2 separate regions of the Homo sapiens genome follow, and region 2 is linked to region 1. The links come from fine-mapping of genetic effects on gene expression. A gene starts in region 1. The other region holds a variant in brackets. All regions are shown on one strand. Distances are from middle to middle.

What was found.
Region 2: its variant is fine-mapped to the expression of SPATA33 in ileum (GTEx, PIP 0.97).

Annotation. Positions count from the first base shown.
Region 1 is chr16:89,656,527-89,659,425 of GRCh38, reverse strand. It overlaps SPATA33 (spermatogenesis associated 33), which reads right to left and starts at 1,590. Exons shown (of 3, transcript NM_001271907.2): 1 at 1,478-1,590; 2 at 1,005-1,178. The coding sequence starts at 1,514. CHMP1A (charged multivesicular body protein 1A) reads left to right here and starts at 1,718. Exons shown (of 7, transcript NM_002768.5): 1 at 1,718-1,844. The coding sequence starts at 1,838. RefSeq lists an enhancer at 1,437-1,606 and silencers at 1,322-1,711, 1,932-1,991.
Region 2 is chr16:89,613,469-89,616,367 of GRCh38, reverse strand. It overlaps DPEP1 (dipeptidase 1), which reads right to left and starts at 2,726. Exons shown (of 11, transcript NM_001389466.1): 1 at 2,649-2,726. RefSeq lists enhancers at 155-857, 858-1,562. The variant G/C (reference allele first, on the strand shown) is at 1,227.

The sequences.
Region 1 (2,899 bases):
CTGGGATTACAGGCGTGAGCCACTGCGCCCAGCCGAGTGGTTCATTCTTGTGATGAAACTTAAAACACCTCCTCCTGGCACAGGCCCCCAATCTCCTCGGACGGCAGGCTCTGCGGGTTCTCCCTGCCTGACCCTTCTGCAATTCCTACTGCAAGGCCTTGCTGGCTCCCACTGGGCCACAGCAATGGGTCTCTGACCGGGCCACCTCCCCTGCGAACTGGCTTCCCCTGTTGGTAGGCACAGACCTCATCATGCCGCCCTTGTTTTTTATTTTTAAATATTTATTTTTTGTAGAGACAGGGTCTCACTATGTTGCCCAAGCTGGTCTTGAACTCCTGGGCTCAAAAGATCCTCCTGCCTCGGCCAAATAACTGGGAGGACAGGTGTGAACTACCGCCCCAGGCAGCACCTCCGTTGTTTAAAATATTTAACGCTTCCAGCTCCACGTGGTAAAACTGATGGAAAACTTTGTATTCTAGCTTCTTCCTACTTTTGGGGCCTCATCTTCCCCACACACACCCAAAGGTCTGGCCACACTAGGCTGTTATAAAAGACACCTTTGTCGCACCCAGGTTCTACTCCTCGGTCACCCTCCGCAATGTACTTATCCCCACAGCCCTCGGAGAGCTACAGTCCAGCCTGGGACGGCCTCCCAATGCTCTGTTCCAGTGTGCGGAGGCTCAGGGATTCTCAGTGGCACCAAGATACCCAGCCCTCGAGGAGAACCTCAGGTGAGACACACGCACACTGCCCCAGCCCCTCGACCACCTGGTACGCACTTATCACTCGGGAACTGACCTACATTTTCATTAAACTTATGTTTTCAACTAAGATTTCTGGATATTTACCTCCTACATAAAGTTCCCAAAACAAACCAGTTTCATCTTTACGGCGCGTGCCTGCTACTAGTGTCCATCCGGTAGGGTCTTACAGTAGGCTCCTCACCCCAGCCCCAGATCCTCCAAGCCACTGACCTCGCTTCGCTCCCTCCCGCCGTCTCCTACCTTCCAGCGAAGCTGCCGGCGGCGGGTGCTTGGCTGTCCCGGCCCCCGGGTGGAGGCTGTCCACAGGCTTCTCCGACTCCCTGTCTGCCTGCCTGGCTTCCTGGGAATGCTTCTCCATCAACTTCTCCTTAGATTTTGGAACTGAATAGGTGGATCCCTTCTTTTGCTCCTCACCTGAAATATATGGATCATCCGTTAGACCCGGGACTTACCGAATGCAGGGCAGTGGGTCCCATCGTCTTCAGTCGCCTGCGTGGGTCCAGAATAAGCTGGCTTCAAGTCTCGAGTCTCCGCGTTTCCGTAACCGCCTCAGGCGGGAAACGCGCCGTCCGTGGCGGACTCGGCGGCAGGAACGGTTCGCACCGGGCCGAGCCTGGCGCCTGCGCTCACACCGCCCCGCCCAGCCCAGCCCCGCCCTGGGCCCGCGCCCAGGGGCGGAGACGCGGGGAGCCCAGCGCCTGCGCCTCCTTTACCTTTCCTGGGTTTCTCTTTGCTTTTGGAAAGGCCCATGGGTGAGCCCACCGCCCCCTCCGACGCAAGCCCGGGTCCCCACACCTCCGCGGCCGCGGAGCCGGGAGCGACTCACAAAAGGTCCTCGCGCCAGCGGCGTGCGTCACCATGGCGACCGCGCGCCGCGCAGCCGCGCCCCGCCCCTCTGGCGGGACCGGCCACCATCCTCTCGCGAGAGCATCCCGTGCGACCGGAAGTGGGGCGGCGACCCCGGAAGTCCCCGCCGGGTGCAGCTTGGTCGGTTCGATCGCCGCCGGGACCTGACACCGCCCGGAGTTGGCGTCCCTTCTCCCTCTCCGAGTGCTGCTCCTGTCATTGTGGCCATGGACGGTAAGAGGTCGCGGCCGTCCTCCGGGGACTCGCGCGCGGGGCGGGGCCGCTTCTCCCACTGGCGTGGGCTCCGCCCACCTGGGGCCGCGGGCAGGACTCAGGAGAGCTCGGGCCTCGACCGTCGATCCCCCGGGACCCCATCCCCAGGGCCTCGACCACCGACCTGGGACCCCTTTTCCCGGTCGTCGTCCCCCGATCCCCGACCCGGACCCCATCCCCAGGGCCTCGACCACCGACCTGGGACCCCTTTTCCCGAGCCTCGTCCCCCGATACCCGACCCGGAACCCCTTCCCCAGGGCCTAGACCACCAACCCGGGACCCCTTTTCCCGGGCCTCGACCCTCGATCCCCGACCCGGAACCCCTTCCCCAGGGCCTCTACCACCGACCCGGGACCCCTTCTCCCGGGCCTCGACCCCCGACCACCGACCGGGACCCTTCCCAGGCCCCCGACCCCCAACCCGAGATCCTTTACCCCGGGCCTCGACCCTCGACCCGGGACCCCTCCCCCCAGGCCTCGATCCCCGACCCCCGATTCGGGACCCCTTCCCCGGGGCCTCCATCCCCAAATCTCAACCCGGTATGCCTTCCCCGGGGCCTCGACCTCTGACCCCCAACCATGGACCCGGGACCTAGACTCCCGACCCAGGACCCCTTGCCCAGGGCCTGGACCCCCGACCACCGACCCAGGACCCTTTCCCCCGCCCCTGGCACTCCTCAGCGTCAGGCGCCCTTTCCCGCCAGCTCGGTAGGGGGGACTGTGCGATGCCTGTTCGGCCTTTCGGGACTTGGAATGTCGGGTCAGAGGGCACCAGAAAAAGTGACAGTTGCACCCCCTGCCCCAAACAGCATCACTGCAAATCAGAAGGACTCAGACAGAAAGCGCTCCCTGAGTGCCAGGCCCTGGTCACAGCAGCTCTTTGCGTCCATTCTCCATGTGGGGAAGCAGAGGTTTGAGCAGGAGCCAGCACAAGCGTTTCTGTGCTCAATGGGTCGCCCTAATTCTTACCTTCTACATCTGGGGCTAGCCGGCTGTGTGCTCAGGGATACCAAAGAA
Region 2 (2,899 bases), 43 kb after region 1:
CTGGGCCATACTGCTCTGTGAAACTGTGCCCGGTCAGCCCCGGAGTGGGTGACCCAGGACCCGCTGGCTGTGTCCTTCCAGGGCACAGGTCCCAGCCTCTCCTGTTTCGTCGACACTGGCTACCTGTGTGGGCTTGTCTGTTTCTGGGCTCTGAGCCCTATCCCCACAGCACTGACTCCCCCACCCACCTGAACCCCCAGCCCAGCCCCCGAAGCCCCACGGACCCAGCCTCCTGCTGCGCACCCCAGCTGGAGTTCAGGGAGCATTTTAAATTCACTTTTTGTGTTTTTTTTTTGAGATGAAGTCTTGCTCTGTCACCCAGGCTGGAGTGCAGTGGTGTGATCTCAGCTCACTGAAACCTCTGCCTCCCAGGTTCAAGTAATTCTCCTGCCTGGGGACACGACACGTAGGGGACGCCTGAGCCCTGCGCCTTTGGGCCTCAGTATCTGTGAAATGGGCCTGTGAAAGGGGTGGACACTCAGAGGCCAGGGCGGGCCTTGGTGCTTGGTCTCCCTCCACACAGCCCACTCCTCTCCAATTCACACCCCACCAGCCGGCCAGGACCCCGGGGCCCCCGTGTTGACCGCCTGCCTGGCTGCTGCAGCTCCTGCCCTCTGGTGGCCAAATCCCAACGTGCCTCCGTGGGGCCGGTTCCCGGCTCCAGTTCACCGGGGCCTCGCGGGGTCCTGCAAGGCGGGGTCCTGGGGGCTCACTTCACCCAAGAACCAGCTGCTCCTCCCTCAGGGTGGGCTCTGCCTGTGGGCTCTGAAGACCTGGGAAGGCTGAGCAGGTGCTCGGAGCCACCACTGCTTCCATGGGTGTCCTGCCCTTTAACCCACGCCCTCACCCCTGAGAGCAAGGCTGCTGTTACCCCTGTCTCCTACTCTTGGAAACTGAGGTAGAGAAGACAGGTCCAGCCCCCTGGCTCATGGGAGATGGAGCCAGGATGTACGCACAGGACACAGGTCCAGAGACTCCAGAGCTGCGTGTAGACCAGCACCACTGCCCTGCCAGGCCCGCCTGCCCGCTCTGTACCCAGTGGGAGCTGGGAGCCTCAGCCCGACCTGTGAGGCCACCCCTCAGGGGCGGCTCTGAGAGGCCGCTTTGGGGCTCAGTGTCCGTCCACCGCAGCCTACGTCCCCCTGAAGCTGCAAGCAGGGACTGAGGGACCCTCCCCGTCTGCTCCTGGCCTCCGACTGGAGATTTGTCAAAGCTGACCTTTTGTC[G/C]ACAAGGAGACTGAGGCCCAGCGGGAGGTATTTTAGAGACACTTCCACGTTTGGAGGCCCTAGATGCCCCCTTCCACCCATGACACCCACTGAGCTTCTCCATGGGGTCAGACGCCAATCAGCAAGAATTCGCCAAGAGATGTGGAGGCTACTAGACCCTCACCATGAAAATAGCTTGGCTGTGTAAGAGCCATTGGCCGAAGTAGGTTCTGCCCTTCGCTAGCCCAGCCGCAGCTCCAGACTCCAACTTCCGCCTGTGCCCAAGGCTTTCTCTCTAGCATGTCCTGTGATAACCCTGAAGCTCCCCGCACCCTACCCGGGGAGAAGATTTTTCTTTTATTTTTTTGGATACGGAGTCTCGCTCTGTCACTCAGGCTGGAGTGCAGTGGCACGATCTCAGCTCACCGCAACCTCCGCCTCCCGGGTTCACGCCATTCTCCTGCTTCAGCCTCCCGAGTAGCTGGGACTACAGGCGCCCGCCACCACGCCCGGCTAATTTTTTGTATTTTTTATTAGAGACGGGGTTTCACCGTGTTAGCCAGGATGGTCTCGATCTCCTGACCTCATGATCTGCCCACCTCGGCCTCCCACAGTGTGGGGATTACAGGCGTGAGCCACCGCGCCCGGCCACAGCTTTGATTTTCATTCAGCAAATCCTTTCCACCTGGAAGGAAATTGTGGGGCCGGACAACAGGCCCTGCTCTTAGCTGGGCGGGAAGGCAGATGACTGCGCAGAGAATTCCAGAACAGAGAGTAAGTCCGGGGACTCGGCGCTCCTCACACAGCCTCTGAGAACTCTTCCTGGAGGAAGGGGTACGTGAGCTGAGTCCCAAGGGTGCCTAGGACCGCACTGGGCGCCACAAGGAAGGAACAGCCGGCACAGTGGACAAGCGGGGTTGTGGGGCCTCTGGAGGGCCTGGCGGGTCCAGACCTCATCCTAGGGACCACGGGGAGGGCCAGTGGGAGGACAGCGGCGGGTCTGAGAGCAGCTCTCCCACCTCCTTGAGTCCCAGGAAGCCGCCGCGTCCCCTGCCCCACACACCTGGCCCCAGTTTCCTAGAATCCCAGGAAGCAGCCGCGTCCCCTGCCCCACACACCTGGCCCCAGTTTCCTAGAATCCCAGGAAGCAGCCGCGTCCCCTGCCCCACACACCTGGTGCCAGCCTCCTAGAATCCCAGGAAGCTGCCTCGTCCCCTGCCCCACACACCTGGTCCCAGCCTCCTAGAATCCCAGGAAGCCGCCCCGTCCCCTGCCGCACACACCTGGCCTCAGCCTCCTAGAATCCCAGGAAGCCGCCGCGTCCCCTGCCCCGCACGCCTGGTCCCAGCTTCCACCCACAGTGGTGCCCTGGGGTCCCCGGGCCTGCACCACCCCAGGTGGGCACCCCAGTACCCTGGCGCACCGACTCCCCAGCCCACTCACCCTGGCCTCTGCGATGCAGACTTGCTCCCTGGCAGGGCCCGGCCTAGGCAGCTCCCACGCCAGGCTCACAGCTGGGCTGGCCCTACCCGGCCACCTGCTGCCCCTCCCAGGCCCCTCCTCAGGAAGGTGAAACTGCCCCATTTCCTGCAGGAACCCTGTGTTCTCTGAAAGTAGAAAGAGGAGGGAAATGGAGGAGGGGAGGGGAAGGTTGGAGAGAAAGGGCCAGGGGTCGGAAGGAAGGGCTGCAGGAG